Linked DNA regions of Homo sapiens: region 2 is linked to region 1. A link means that fine-mapping ties the variant in region 1 to the expression of a gene that starts in the linked region. Tissue or cell type: minor salivary gland. Region 1 holds a variant in brackets; the other region holds the start of a gene. All regions are shown on one strand. Distances are from middle to middle.

The links. PIP is the estimated chance that this variant, and not a neighbour inherited with it, causes the effect.
Region 2: it holds the start of TACR1-AS1, and the variant in region 1 is fine-mapped to the expression of TACR1-AS1 in minor salivary gland (GTEx, PIP above 0.99).

Annotation. Positions count from the first base shown.
Region 1 is chr2:74,285,821-74,293,820 of GRCh38, forward strand. It overlaps SLC4A5 (solute carrier family 4 member 5), which reads right to left. Exons shown (of 31, transcript NM_133478.3): 8 at 1-82. Among named protein-coding and RNA genes, the nearest start is that of SLC4A5, 54 kb to the right of the region's middle. RefSeq lists a silencer at 955-1,089 and enhancers at 3,957-4,457, 4,458-4,958, 4,703-4,762. The variant G/T (reference allele first, on the strand shown) is at 3,200.
Region 2 is chr2:75,150,299-75,158,439 of GRCh38, forward strand. It overlaps TACR1-AS1 (TACR1 antisense RNA 1), which reads left to right and starts at 4,020. Exons shown (of 4, transcript NR_168010.1): 1 at 4,020-4,273; 2 at 5,906-6,017. The region is part of intron 1 of TACR1 (tachykinin receptor 1); the gene reads right to left.

The DNA.
Region 1 (8,000 bases):
TCCATCTCTGTAAAGAGGGTGGGGTTGGGAGCCTCATCTTCCTCCCCCAGGATGTCCTGGAGCTGCTCAGCAGCTGGGGACCCTGCAAAAGAGGGGCAGCAGGTCTGCTGAGTGTCCCATGGAAGGCAGGAGGACCACAAGGCCAACAGAAATGGAGTAGGAGGCAAGCACAAGGGAAAAGTATTTTCTAATTCTGTAAAACTAAGTCCAGCTCCTGGGTGATGCTGGCCTCCTGTAACCATGAATCAGAGGTGGGCGAGATACTCTTTAAGATAAAAGAGATGAAAAGATTTAGTCTGCATTCAGATCCAGGGTCTTGCAGCTGGCAGTGAAGAATGATGGGAAATGGTCGAAGCCAGGGCAGTAGCAAGAACCAGAACTGAAGAGAGAAGTGAGAAGCACTCTGACCCAACTTCAGCTTACCACCCGAGGGGGTTCTTCTTCCCACCGGGCCCCAAGCAAGCCATCCTCCAACACTGGTCTTGAAAAGGCAGTCAGCCATGCAAAAGGACAGCTTGCACACCCTTGTACCATGTGGGCCCACTTTCTTCCTGGGCAAGATGGCAGTCCATTTCCTGAGGCCCCAGCCTGCTTTCCAGCTGCCCATTGGAAGTCACTTCCTGGGTGTCTCCCAGGCACCTCAAAACTCGACATTCCTCTCCCAAACACACTTCACCTGTGTTCTTTCTCTCTTTTTCTTTCTTTTCCTTCCTTCCTTACTTTTCTTCATCTCTCTCTCTCTCCAGTGAATACCTACTATGTGCCAAATAAAGCTATGAAGAAGACCTATGTGTCCTTGCTCTCTTGAGCATGTCCTCTAGTGATAGAGACAGAGAATAAACAAGTCAACAAATCCATAAATGACCATTTCAATCATAAGTTGTCTAAAATAAACAAAATGACCAGGGGAGCTACAGTAGATAGCATGGTCACAAAAGGACTCTCTGAGGAGGGGACACTGGAGCTGTGACTTGAAAAATGAGAACGAGCCACTCTGCAGATCTGGAGGAAGAGTGCTCTGCATGTTCCAGACACCCTGTGGTGGAAACGTGCTGGTGAGTGTGGTTCAGCACGTGAGCAAGGGACAGAGAGATGGCATGATGTCAAAGTGGTGACCAATGCCATGACTAAAGGCATCCCTGCCCACCCCACTGCACAGGCTAGACACCCTGGAGTCATCATTACCTCACCTCCCTTCCCCTCATCTTCACACTCATATTGAAATTTTCAGGAACCCCACTGCCCTGCCCCGACGCAATCTCTCGTTCACTGTCTCCTGGGCCTCATCAGGTCTTCCCTTCCTCCAGCCTGTTTCCTCAGTTCATCATTCCCTTCTGTCCTCACTTATTTCTTCATGGACCTCTACTCTTTTCTTCATCACATCCTCCATTCTTTCCCCTTGACTTCCCAATCAAACCAGCCAGGCAATGCCCAAACAAGAATTCACTGGCCCAGTCTCCTCTGCAGGTGTGTCTGAGGGCTTGGGCTGGGGGATGGCTGGGGTGGGGATGGCAGCACGGAGTGGTAGTGTGGTGGAATCAAATAGAATCCCAATCCAGCTAGACAAGGGTGTGAGTCTCGGGGCTGCCACTTATTCACAAGCGAACTCAGTTGAGTGAGCAGGACTGCTGGGAGGAATACAACAGGTAAGAGAATGAAATGCCTGACACAGGGCTTGGAAGGTAACAGCTGCTTAGCCCCTCACCACCAACACCCACATCCAGGCCCATGAGCCCCACTGTAAGGGTTTCCCCTCAGCAAGTCTCAAGTGCGGCATCCTTCCATGCATCCTTGTCAGCGCCCTCACTGTGTCCCTCAAGGCTGTCCCTAACCTTTGCTCCTCTCTTCAAGCTTCTTGATTCAACTCCTACCCCACTTCACCAAGAGAATAAAGGCCTCCAGGCATGAAATCCATCAACATCCTTTCTTCCATCCCCTCAACTCTTTCAGATCCTTATTTCATCAGCTAGTCTTTCTTCACCTGGATCTTCAACTTCCCTCTCTCCACCCTCTTTCTCTCAGCCTAGAAACAGCTCTTCCTACCCAAGACAGGTTCCCTGACCCTGCCTGTCTCCTTAGCTCTCCTGCTTGCCTTCTTCTTTCTTTTACCCATACTTCCTAAAGTAGTGGTCTGTGCTCATGGTCTCCATCTCCTCCTTGCCCAATCAGTTCCCGGCCTGCTGCCACTGGCTCAGCCCCCACCACGCTAAGGACATTGACAAAGGCAGAGGTTTCAAACTGACAGTTCAAAGGTGTGTTTAATTCAGGCCTCGCAGAGTATGAAATTTTTTGAAAGTATTGCTAAGATAAAGAATTGTAAGATTTCATATAGAAATCCAGATCTCTGACTTTTCTTGAAAAGTCAGATGTTCTGATCACTGTGCCCACGTTCCTGCTTGGCAACAATCCATGAGAGTTGATGATGGTGCCTTCTTAGGTAAACATATGCTTTTTAGTTTGCCACAGTCCCCACTACTTCTTACTGGTGTCCCGTTAATCTCACTTATTGCCATGCACCCAAATTCACAACCCCTGCCCTCAGATCCCTCTTGTTATTTTAATTGTCAAACCAATAAGCTAATAAAATCAATCAAACCAACAGCACTGAGAAGCTATGGTCTGGCTTATCTCTCTGGAACTTCAGAGGTGATCATCGCCGCTCTGAACTGAAATGTGACTTATGGCTCTTATAACGTGGCAGTTTCTTGATATTTTCCCTCTTTGAAGATTCTCTCTCAATATCTTTCCCTAGTTCCTCTTGCCTGGCTAACACTTAAATCTTGATCTTGCCCAGGATTCTGCTTCATCTTGTTCTCTCTTCTCTCTCCACACTCCTTCTGGGCTAGCTCACGTTATTTGTGGTGTCATTTTATAAATGAGGTCACCCTTGTGTCCAGGCAATACACCCATGTGTATTGAACATTCCAACTGACAATTGGACTGCTCCTTTTGGAAGCTCGGCAGCCTTCTCAAGTCAACCTCAACATATTCAAAACAGCTCTGCATCCCTTCTCCCATCAACCCAGCCCTGCTCTCCTCTGTTTTTATTAATAGCACCTCTAGCCACCTACCCATCTAGACAATGCTGGACTCATTCCTGAAGCTCCTTCTTTTTCACAATTCATGTCCAACTGGACACTAATGTCTTTCATTTGCTTCATAAACATTTTTTGGCTCTCTCCTTTTTTCCCCACCCATT[G/T]CCACCATCTTGGTTCTGGCTCTCATCATCTGCTCCTATCACTGCAATAGCCACCTACTGTTGCCATTGCCTCTGGTTGTCCCATTTAATCCCATTCCCTATGTAGCAGTAGAGTGTGCTTTTAAAACATTTCAAACATGTTCACACAATGGGCTCCTGGGAGTCATGGTTCTCTTTGAATAGCACCATAAAACACTATACATATGAGTTAGAAATCATTTTACTAGCAGAACACACTATTATCTACAGAACTCATGGACTCATGTATTTAAATGAATTTTAAATTTCTCAATTTTTCTATTACTTTTTTTTTTTGAGACAGAGTCTCACTCTTTTGCTTAGGCTGGAGTGCAGTGGCACAATCTTGGCTCACTGCAACCTCCACCACCTGGGTTCAAGTGATCCTCCCACTTCAGCCTCCAGAGCAGCTGGGAGTACTAGCTCATGTCACCATGCCTGGCTAATTTTTGTATTTTCTGTAGAGACGAGGTTTCACCATGTTGCCCAGGCTGGTCTCGAACTCCTGAGCTCAAGAAATCCACCTGCTTCAGCCTCCTAAAGTGCCAGGATTAAAGGTATGAGCCACTGGACCCAGCCTATTACTTTTAACTTACATCCTTTCCATTGTCTTATTGATTGCTGGCGCTTGCTAGCAGACACCAAATGTTTAAAGAAATTTTATAGACAAAAAACCAACAATTGAGAAAATAACCTTATTTTTTCTTAAAATTGAGAAAACTGTGACTGCTTGATTCTGAGGGGCCATACCAATTCTCCCTGGGATCAGAAATCAGTAACTACTCTTTTAAAATGTAGATTTGATGTACCTTGGAGGATGGCATGAAAAAGAAAATAAAATATAAAATAAAATAAAATGTAGATTTGATTATGTTATTCACCAGTTGAAAAACTTTCAATGTCTCTCTATTGCCTAAAGCCTAGGGGTCAGTGACATGGCTCAAACCACCCCTCATAATATAGCCCTAACCTGCCTTTCTAGGTTCTAGCATGTCCCTCACCCAGCCACCCCGACCCCAGCCACAGCAGACCACATCCCTGAAGAGGAGGGCATGCTACTCCTTGGGCCCCTGTGCCTGCCATTCCCTAAGTCTGGAATCCCCTTTCCCCTTCAAGGCCAGACAAGAAGGCAAATAAATGGACAGGTCCTGGAGAGAGGAGACAGGCAGAGAGCAGGATGCAAACCAGTTCTGCCTGGGGCATTACCTGCTCCCTGGAACAGCTGAGCGCTGGGGTCCCTGGCTGTCGATGCTGCCTCTGGCCCCAGCCTGCTTCCGCTGCTGCCTCCCTGGCTGCTACTTCCACAGGTCCTCTTCTTCACACAACAAACTCACTTTTGTTTCCAGTTAAGCACCAGGGGAGGTGTGGGGAGAGAAGAAGGGGGGTTTGAGGGGAGAAAAAGAGAGAGAGAAAAGGAATGTGTGAAGGACTGGGGAGGTGGAGAGAGAGGCTATATGTAGAGAGAATATAGGTGTGGTAAGTGTAAGTGTGAGAAAGATTATGCAAAAGTGTTTGAGAGAGAAAAGCTACACTGAGTTAATTAAAGATCTGAGAGAGAGAGAGACAGAGAGAGAGACAGAGAAGTGAGAGAGAGAGAGAGAGAGAGAGAGAGAAGTGAGCAAGAGAGAGAGAGAAGTGAGAGGGTGAGAGAGAAATCTCAGGTGCACTAGAGAGAGAAAGGCTCAGTGGCTGCAGCAGAACCTCAAGCAGGAAGCCGGGTCTCCACAGCAGCAGGGGTGGTGGCAGCTGAGGACCTGTGAGAGGACTGGCAAAACTGCCCCTTTACCCCCTTCCCCATGAGTGCTTCCTATGTGCCTGTGGTCTCTAGGAGAGCCCAGGATCCTCTCTGCAGGCCCCTTTATAAAGGCAGGGGTAGGATGTGCTGTGAGATTCCCCAGGGCCTCCTTAGGAGCCTTGGTGGCAGGTGAGCTGGCTGGAGAGGAACCTAGCAGGGCCCTTCCTCTCCACCACACAGCCCCAAAGGTGGAGTGGGGTTGCTGGAGGGGAGTGTTTGCTGTGGGGTCTCACACTGACCAAGCAGTGCTCGATAATGTGCTATGTAGCTGGTTTCTTTCCTCCCCAACTTTAAACCCAAACTCCTGATACACTTCCTGTTCCTCCACCTCTCAGGCAAAGTGCCAAGTGTCACCACTCGGCAGGTGTTTTCTGAGAGCCCACGGACAGTGGAAGCTCGTCACTTCAGAGTGTGAGGTAAACTCCACTGGGGAATTATTTTGCTCTTCTGAGAAACTCCTAATCTCCTGGGTTTGGTTTAACAAGTGCTTACTGAGTACTTAGAATGTGCCAAGGTTGATTGGAGGTCACTGAGTGGTGGCTGCTCCAGGGAGTTACAAACCCTGAATTCACTAAGTCTTAGAGCTGGGAGGGAGCTTAGTGATGGTCAAGTCCAAACCCTTCATTTCACGGATGAGAAAACCAAGACCCAGTTTACCCCATAGGCCCCCTAGGCCCCAACACAGGTTAGCAGAGCCTGGGGGAGAACAGACATCTGACATTCTCCCCCTACACTGCCCCATTGAGGCTGGCTCCACTGGTGACATTTTCATACCTGAGGCTCGAGGATCAAGTACGCCCATTTTATTATTTTATTTTTAGAGACAGGGTCTTGCTATGTTTTGCAAGGCTGGTTTTGAACTCCTGTGCTCAGACAATCCTTCCGCCTCAGCCTCCCATAGTGTTGGGATTACAGGTGTGAGCCATCACACGTGGCCACAAGTATGCCCGTTTTAAAGCTGAGAAAACAGAAGCAGAGGACACCAGGCCCTGCCTGAGGGTCCCAGGCTCTGCAGCTTCCACTGCACTGTGGCTGAGGTTGACCCAGCTCCTTCTGAGTGGCCACAGCAGGCCACACCAAGTCAGGCCCTGTGGGTGGCCTCAATACCCAAAAAAAGATGGCCAAGGATCCCAAAAAGACCCTCTTTATTCATGTGGTGTTTTAAGAGCCCAGACCTGGGCTCAACTCCAGACTCTGCTATTACTAGCAGTAGGATCCTGGCAAGACATCAAGCTCCCACTGAGCCTTAGTTTCCTCATCTATGAAGCGGTAATAATCACGCCCCCCTCACTGGACTGTGGCAGGGATTCAATGAGATAATACATGTAATGTGACTGGCTGGCACAGCACTCGTGTACACCAGTCACTCAATAGGTGATATTGCTATTATTGTTGATGCCAGCAGGTGAGATGCTTCCTCTGTTACTACCAGTTACCAGCCTGTTCCCTCTAAACATTCCAAGGGCCCAATCCTTCTCAGCTTCTAGACTCCATGCTCCTCCCATGCTACCTCTGGCCCTCCATCCCAGGCCCCTACGCTGTCTCTGCCCCTCCCTTCTGCCCACAGAAGGTTTAGCTCACCACATGCTGGGCCACTGGGTCAGGGTTTCTCTAATGCCCTGCGGATCCCACATGTGTGCAGCACGTCAGAAGTTAATCCACATAATGAGAAATGCCACAGGTAATAGCCCCTCTGTTCTATAGCTAACAGCAAGAGTCACAAAGTGCCAGCCCAACTATAGGAATGGATTCTAACAGCAGTTGCTGGGAGAAACATAACCTCCATGGGGACCGCTTCAGGAGGCACACTAAAGCCACACAAAGAATCATGCTTTTACTGGGTGGGGACTGACTTAGCACAAAATGATCTAGTGGCCTGCAAACTAGCAAGCAGTGTGGACTTCAACTCTTAGTAAAGATCTGGGAGCCATTATGGCCATCTGGAAGTCAACATCAGGACACGATCCTGGGGTCCTCAGCTCTGGGCAAGTCCTTTCAGACATTCTCTCTCTCATCGGCTCCCTGATGGGTGGCTACACGGTCAGCTTTGTGAGGTCAGGGCCTATCTTGTTCACATCGCACTGCTGGCCCCTGACATGGGTTCACACAGCATGTGTACTCAATGCATATTTGCTGGGTGAATGGATTTGACTGCCTGACACTCGGGAGTATATTTGCTGAGGCTGGCCTCAGCAAGAGAGGAGCCAAGAACAAGGAAATGGAGCTGAGGGTGAAGCAGAGGGGGCAGGGATGGGGGGATTCGGGTGACTCCAGGCCACTGACTATTGGGGACTGGGAGAGGGAACCCAAAGGAGCCAAAACCATTCTTGCCAACTGTGTGAAGTAGGTCTTGGAGGCCCTGAGTCCTAGTTTCATGGGCAATAACATTCTTTTTCTAGAAGGCTGTATACAAACTCCAAGTGTGCCCTCTGAGAGAGGAAGAGGAGAGAATCTGCTGACTTGCTGTGTTCACGGGAATCCTTCCTGGGGTGGGTGGCTTTGGAATGTCTGCCCAGCCCATGTCCCCTCCTCCCATAAGGATGACCCTGGGCAGCTGTATTTGTGTGACATGTGACCTGTGCTCCTGGCCACAATGAATTGGAGCAGGAATGGTTCATTGGACACCTGTCCCAAGCCTGTGAATTTTGAATTGGGTCTCTGAGTTAGCTGGGCCTTTCCTGATGGTTTCTGGGAGACAGAGCTGGTAAATGGAAGAGGCAGAAAGGGCTGGGCTGCAAAGAGAGGAAGCAGCCTAGAGGCGAAGCTGTGGGAAAGGGCTGTGTACACCCAGAGAGGGGGCTGAGAAGGCACTGCGCTCACCCACTTGAGCCCGGCTCTTCGTTTTGCTTTGGGACTGTGAGAAACTCCTTTGTTCTTGTAATATAAACAATCTCTCCCCACACCCCTTCTCTCTCTGCTTCCCCAAGCCAGTTCAAATAGGTTTCTGGCATTGTGATAAAATTACCTTCTTAATCATGAGTCCCCTTT
Region 2 (8,141 bases), 860 kb after region 1:
AATAAGCATATGCTCTAATACGGTTTGGCTGTGTCCCCACGCAAATCTCAACTTGAATTGTATCTCCCATAATTTCCATATGTTGGGAGGGACCCAGGGGGAGGTAATTGAATCATAGGGGCCTGTCTTTCCCATGCTTTTCTTGTGATAGTGAATGAGTCTCATGAGATCTGATGAGTTTATCAGGGGTTTCTGCTTTTGCTTCTTCCTCATTTTCTTTTGCTGCCACCATATATGAAGTGGTACCAGTGAATCTCCTGCCATGATTGTGAGGCCTCCCCAGCCATGTAGAACTGTAAGTCCAATTAAACTTCTTTTTCTTCCCAGTCTTGGGTATGTTTTTTATAAGCAGTGTGAAAACAAACAAATACAATAAACTGGTACCAGTAGAGTGGGGCATTGCTGAAAAGATACCTGAAAATGTGGAAGCGACTTTGGAACTGGGTAACAGGTAGAGATTGGAATAGTTTGGGAGGGCTCAGAAGAAGACAGAAAAATGTGGGAAAGTTTGGAACTTCCTAGAGACTTGTTGAATGGTTTTGCCCAAAATGTTGATAGCAATATGGACAATAAAATCCAGGCTAAGGTGGTCTCAGATGGAGATGAGGAACTTGTTGGGAACTGGAGCAAAGGTGACTCTTGTTATGTTTTAGCAAAGAGATTGGTGGCATTTTGCCCCTGCCCTAGAGATTTGTGGAACTTTGAACTTGAAAGAGCTGATTTAGGGTATCTGGCAGAAGAAATTTCTAAGCAGCAAAGTAATCAAGAGGTGACTTGGATGCTGTTAAAGGCATTCAGTTTTATAAGGGAAGCAGAGCATAAAAGTTTGGAAAATTTGTAGTCTGACTATGCGATAGAAAAGAAAAACTCATTTTCTGGGGAGAAATTCAAGCTGGCTGCAGAAGTTTGCATAAGTAGCAGGGAGCCTAATGTTAATCCCCAAGACCATGGGGAAAATGTCTCCAGGTCATGTCAGAGACCTTCATGGCAGCCCCTCCGATCACAGGCCCAGAGGCCCAGAAGGAAAAAGTGTTTTTGTGGATCTGGCCCAGGGTCCCTGTGCTGTGTGTAGCCTAGGGACTTGGTGCCCTGTGTCCCAGCCACTCCAGCTGTGGCTGAAAGGGGCCAATGTACAGCTTGGGCTGTGACTTCAGAGGATGCAAGCCCCAAGCCTTGGCAGCTTCCACATGGTGTTGAGCCTGCAGGTGCACAGAAGTCAAGAATTGAGATTTGGGAACCTTTGCCTAGATTTAGGAAGACGTATGGAAGTACCTGGATGCCCAGTCAAAAGTTTGCTGCAGGGGTGGGGCCCTCATGGAGAAACTCTGCTAGGGCAGTGTGGAAGGGAAATGTGGGGTTGGAGCCCCCACACAGAGTTCCTACTGGGACACTGCCTAGTGGAGCTGTGAGAAGAGGGCCACCATCCTCCAGACCCCAGAATAGCAGATGCACCAACAGCTTGCACCATGTACCTGGAAAAGGCTGTAGACACTCAACACCAGCCTGTGAAAGTAGCTGGGAGGGAGGCTGTACCCTGCAAAGCCACAGGCATGGAGCTGCCCAAGACCATGGGAACCTACCTCTTGCATCACTGTGACCTCGATGTGAGACCTGGAGTCAAAGGAGATCATTCTGGAACTTTAAAATTTGACTGCCCATTGGATTTCAGACTTGCATGAGCCCTGTATTGTTTTGGCCAATTTCTCCCGTTTGGAATGGCTGTATTTACCCAATATCTGTACCCCCATTGTGTCTAGGCAGTAACTAGCTTGCTTTTGATTTTACAGGATCATAGGTGGAAGGGACTTGTCTTGCCTCAGATGAGACTTCGGACTGTGGGTTAATGGGTTAATGATGAAATGAGTTAAGACTTTGGGGGACTGTTGGAAATGCATGATTGGTTTTGAAATGTGAGAACATGAGATCTGTAGGGCCCAGGGGCTGAATGATATGGTTTGGCTGTTTCCCTACCCAAACCTCAATTTGATTTGTATCTCCCATAATTCCCACGTGTTGTGGGAGGAACCCAGGGGGAGGTAATTGAATCATGGGGGCCAGTGTTTCCCATGCTGTTCTCATGATAGTGAATAAGTCTCATGAGATCTGATGGTTTTATCAGGGGTTTCTGCTTTTGCTTCTTCCTCATTTTCTTTTGCCGCTGCCAAGTAAGAAGTGTCTTTCACCTCCCCCCATGATCCTGAGGTCTCCTAGCCATGTGGAGCTGTAAGTCCAATTAAACTTCTTTTTCTTCCCAGTCTCAGTTATGTCTTTATCAGAAGTGTGAAAATGGACTAATACATGCTCCGAGGCTGAGAGTTAAAGTGTCAGATGTCTGATTCCTTCTAAATCTGAAAACAGGAAGCTTAACAGTTGGTACATAGTAGATGCTCAATTAATGCTTAATAAATGATTGATAAATATCACTAAACAGGTGTATAGATCACAGCTCTCTTAGTCACCCCAATGCATTCCCATTAGAGAAATTCACTGCTAAGGGGTTGTTCCTTAGGAGAATAGACTGTACACCTCACTCTACCATTTCTAGTGGGTGGATCAAAGGCTATTAATTCCAAAGAAAGATGGGGCCAAGACTTCTTTTTTGTTTGTTTGTTTGGTATTTTGTGAGACGGAGTCTCATTCTGTCACCAGGCTGGAGTGCAGTAGCGCAATCTCGGCTCACTGCAACCTCTGCCTCCTGGGTTCCAGTGATTCTCCTGTTTCAGTTTCCCGAGTAGTGGGACTACAGGCGTGCACCACCACGCCTGGCTAATTTTTGTATTTTTTAGTAGAGATGGGGTTTCACTATATTGGCCAGGCTAGTCTTGAACTCCTGACTTTGTGATCTGCCCACCTTGGCCTCCCAAATTGCTGGGATTACAGGCGTGAGCCACTGCACCAGCCTAAGACTTCTTATAAGAGTTCTTTTAGGCAAAAGCTCAGCAGAGGGCAGGGTAGGAACAATACACAATCACCTTGACTGAGTCTAACAAGATGCTATGGCAAGAAAGCACAGGAATTGTCAGAAATCTTTTCTGAAGGCATCCAAGCCTCAGTGGGATGTTATGAAAGACTGCTTCTCAGAAGATAGTCCTGACACCTAAGTGGGTGACTGAGCTAGAACCAGCTACTCACTTGCTGAGAATTATTGACCTCTCTTGTGAAATGTCAATATTGACTGACTGCACTCTGAGCTGTGCTGTTAAAGGCGTTCAGTTTTACAAGGGAAGCAGAGCATAAGGTCTGATGTCTCTTCCAGATCTGATGACCTAAGATTTGTTTATAGGATCAGGAAAAAAACCCATTAAAATACATCTCTTAATTCTTAGAGTATTATTGAAATTGTGTACAACTTGGAGAGAAGCAATGGCAAAACTTCTGAAATTCACCTGGCACATTCCCTGTTTCCTTCCATGTGGCTGCTAACCCTTTTAAGTTGTGAAGACAGAGGATCCAGGTGGACCAACCAGGGATGCAAAAGGGAGGAGGTGGTTTTAACTCCTGTGTGCAAGGATTTAATTCCTCACGTATCCTCTCTTCCTATTCAAGCTAATTCCAGGTCATCAGTGTACTCTAAGTATTCTAATCAGATTCATTAAATTTTTTTTCCTGGAATCACTGATGGTGGGCAGCACTATTGAGCTTTATTCAGGGTGTGGGACTGAGGTCTCTCCATGAGGCCATTCACTTTTGATAAGGAAACTGGCCTCACTATAGGAGTTCAGTAAAGGCCCAGCTTGCTGGCTCACTGATTAATTGAAGGGCGGGGGTGTGGGGCTTGCTGTGCACAACTAAAGTTCACTTGGATGCCCCCCTCACTGCCCAAAGCAATGCTTGGCCTACAGGAAGCTGAGCCTGCTGCTGCCTTCCTCCCGGCTCCTGGCTCCCTCGGGATCTGAACACTCAGGGTCATGCTGTTGCTGCCCAAGCAGGAAAATCCTGTTTCTGAAAATCCCAAACAACAAACAGCTCCCCTACAGAGCTCATGGGGGAGTAGTCAGAACCTCCAGACTGAGCATGTCACAAGGAAGGACTGCTTTGCTGAAGCCACTCACTCCGGGAGATTTATAATTGGAAGTTTGGCCCAGGGAGATAATCAGCCAAGAGCGCGCACGCACACACACACACACACACACACACACACACACACACACACTCTGAAGAAACCCAGTGGAGATTCAGCACTAACCCACCACACACACACACACACACACACACACACACACACACACTCTCTGAAGAAACCCAGTGGAGATTCAGCACTAACCCAGCACAGGTGAGTGAGAAATTACAACCTGTCAGCCAATGAGCCATGGTGATTCCCTCTGAAGAGGGTTTCCCAGCTATCATTCCCTTTCATCCCCACTGTAAGTTAGGCCCTCGTGCATGTTGCCTGGACTGTGGCTGGAGTCTCCTAACTGTCTTGTCTTCTCTGGGTTTTCTGGCCCCAGGTCTCTCCCTGTCTATCTACCCTGCATCCCTGCTGCTGTTGGAAGAGTCCCCTAAAAGACCTTCTCCACAGCACTGCTTAGCTCCTGGTACTCCCTTATCCCTCCTTTCGGCCCATCCTCTGCCACTGGCTTCCAAGTTCGCATTTGGCCTGCTCCCTACCTCAGTCCTGGGCAGTGAGGCAGGAAGCTGCCTTTCTCCTCCAGATGAGTCTGTGCTCTGCCTCTCTCCTTTGCGTCTCCAAATTCACACTGAGCATGAACATCTCTGACCTCACCTTTTCAAACCAAATGAAAGGGCTGCATAAGGACAACTTAGTTTATTTTGGAAGGCTGTTACACTTTGACCTCCATTTAAAAAACAAACAAAAAAATCTAAAAACCCCAAAACGTTGAGGGACTGTTCCCAAGCCCCAGCATCTTTGCCCCATCCTCAAGCCTTCCAGGACCCTCTCTCCATTCTTGGGATTGCAGCTCCTAACGTAGTTCTCCTCTTCAGCTCAAGGACAATTCTAACTGTCTTCTTGCCTGGTATGGCTTAATGAGCCTCAAGCTCACTTAGCATCATCTGGATTTAATTTCCTCTCTTGCCGTGAGCAACCTTGGCTCATCTTTCTGCCTCTCTTCTCCTCTCCTCTTTTTCCTGTCTCCCCCTCCCTTTGCTTACATGCCCTTCTTCCCCCTTTCTCTCCTCTCTCTATCTCTACCTCTCTAATGTCCACAAGTGCCTCACAACTGCCCCATTCAACCCCCACCTGAGTATCACCAGCTCTTCTGGTCCAGCTCACCTGTAAAATCTCTATTCCATCCAGAGAGGCCACCATCTCCTGTTCTAAGGGTCACATAGCTCAGATACAGACAAACAAGGTCAGGACAACCACCCTCCTGCCTTGGAAAATCACCAATTACCCTCCATTATTATATTTCTTGTGAAGCTACATTTACATTTTATCATATCCACATAACAAGAGAGAGAGTTTTAAAAAGGAGAGTGGTCAAATGTATGTCAAGAGACATAGAAACACTTAGAATAATGTAGACAGAACAGATAGCTGGAGTTATTAGAAGGTTATTGGAGACCATCAAAAAGGAATCAAGATGGTTTAGGATATATTCTATTATTCTAACTCAGGATTGGTAAATTATGGCCCATAGGCCAAAGCTGGCCTGCTGCCTATTTTTTTATATGGCTTCTGAGTGAAGAACAATTTTTACATTTTTAAATGATTGAAAAAAATAAAAAGAAGACTATTTCACAAGTAAAAATTCTATGAAATTCAAATTTCAGTGTCCATAAGTTAAGATATCCTGGAACACAGTCACACTATTTGTTTACATATTGTCTATGGCTGCTTTTGTGCTATAACACAGAGTTGAATAGTGTGACAAATATCATATTGTGCATACAAATTATTGTGGTGGGTCCTCGATATGATAACAAGTATTCTTGTAAGCGATAGAAGAGGAGAAGAGACATACAGAGGACAAGGCCATGTCACAACAAGTGGAGACTGGAATTATGCAGCCACAAGCCAAGGAACCTCTGGAACCACCAGAAGCTGGAAATGGCAGGTAAGAATTTACCCAAGAGGCCGGGCGCGGTGGCTCATGCCTGTAATCCCAGCACTTTGGGAGGCCAGGGCGGGCGGATCACAAGGTCAGGAGACCGAGACCATCCTTACCAAAAATACAAAAAAAAAAAAAAAAAAATTAGCCGGGCATGGTGGCAGGCCCCTGTGGTCCCAGCTACTCAGGAGGCTGAGGCAGGAGAATGGTGTGAACCTGGGAGGCAGAGCTTGCAGTGAGTGGAGATCATGCCACTGCCCTCCAGCCTGGGTAACAGAGCGAGACTCCGTCTCAAAAAAAAAAAAAAAAAAAGAAAGAATTCTACCCAAGAGTGTCTGGAGGCAGCACAGCCCTTCCAACACCTCGATTTTGGACTTCTGGTCTACATAACAGTGAGAAAATAATTTTCTTTTGTTTCAAGCCACCCAGTTTGTGGTAATTTGTTATAGCAGCCCTAGGAAATGAATATACTGGTCTTTCATACAAAGTTTACCAACCCCTGTTTCAATCTGTCTTTCTACATTGGATTTGGGTATGCTCATTAGTGTCTAGTTTTCTTCTAAATGAAGTAAAGAGATAGTGAAATGTAGGGATACACTGCATTTCCATTAAAATGACTAAGAGAATGAGAAAGAATGCTCAGCACTATGAAGCTGACAGCTCTTCTCCTCCCATGATGGAGATGGGAGTCGGGGCTGGGTGCTCCATCCATTTCTCCAAAGGACTCATGTCTCCCATGCATTCCAGCTGCTGACCTGGATCAATGGTTTTCAGAAACAGAGGCTAGAAGGGATTATCTCATCAGCTTGTATTCAGGTCTGTGGTAGTGGCAGGGCAGGGGTTGGGGGATTGATAAGGAGGAGGATGAAGAAGGAAAGGCACCACCGTGGAGCAAACTGGTAACTGAGACTTGGAGGAAAGCTAGACCCTTCTCCTCCAAGTCTAAACAAATTCCCTTTCCTTTCATTTTCCTTACTACCATCTGCCCACTGTAGTCCTCCTCACCCACCTATGGAAGCAAGGCTTACCCAGTGACTTTGGGTAGGTACTCAAGCTTCTCTTTCCTACTCTCCCAAAAGAGAGGACTCAGGTCCTGACAAACAAGCATCATAACGACCTACGAAGACAGGATTTGACATAGGAAAATCAGAGCTTGCATTGTTAAGAGTTAAGAAGGGGGATTGTACCCACCTTGTTCCTCCACCTGTTCACAAACAATGTGTCAAAGAAGGGGCAGGTAAGTGGCCAGGCAGCCCTGAAATAGCCTGGGGCCAGGACTGTGACAAATACTCACTGGGAACATCCCCCACCTAAGGGTTGAAGTCAGGAAGAGGAGTGCCCTGTCCTTACACTAGATGGAACTGTTCCTCTATAAAAAAGAAGAAGAAATAAAACCTGATACATGTATTAATCTTATTCAGGGAGATGTGGGTTTTAAGCAATTCAAATATTTCATTCTGTTCTTTCAGTTCTGCCTACTGGCCATTATCAGGAAGATGTGGGAAATAGACTGAAAGAAAATCTTCTGATTATTGAAAGAGAATTTACAGCAGCAAAACAATTTGCAGTGTTTCTACCTAGAGACAGGGAAGTAAGAGAATCTGAGTCCAAGTCCCCACCAAAAAGAGCTTTAGTTTAGAGCCTGTTTCTCAAGAAACTTGCATATGCACACATGAGTTTGGGAAATTCTCATTATTACCTCATAGGTTAGGTCTAAACCTTATTTTAAGACTGAGAAATGGAAACCTAGCTGTGTGAAGAATGCATCAAAGATCATAGAGATGGTTAAGGGCAAAGAGAATACAAGACTCCAACTATGACCCAACTGGGTCCTCCAACACTTTTTACTATCTTTGGATCTGATTCACTTCGGGTAAATGTCTCCTGAGATCTTCCTATGGACGAAGATCGAGCATTTATCGGAAAAGCATTACTCTAGGCAACTATGTAATCAGTAGAATTTTAATTTGACCAAGTGGACATGGAGAGATTTCCACAGCTTATTAACTTTCCCTTGCTCTCTGCCTTTTTCCCAGGCAGAAAATGCATATTATGTATTCCCAGTGTCTGGCTTAATAAGAGGGATTATTATAAAAGGCAGCAATAGGACATCTATTTTCTAAAATATCA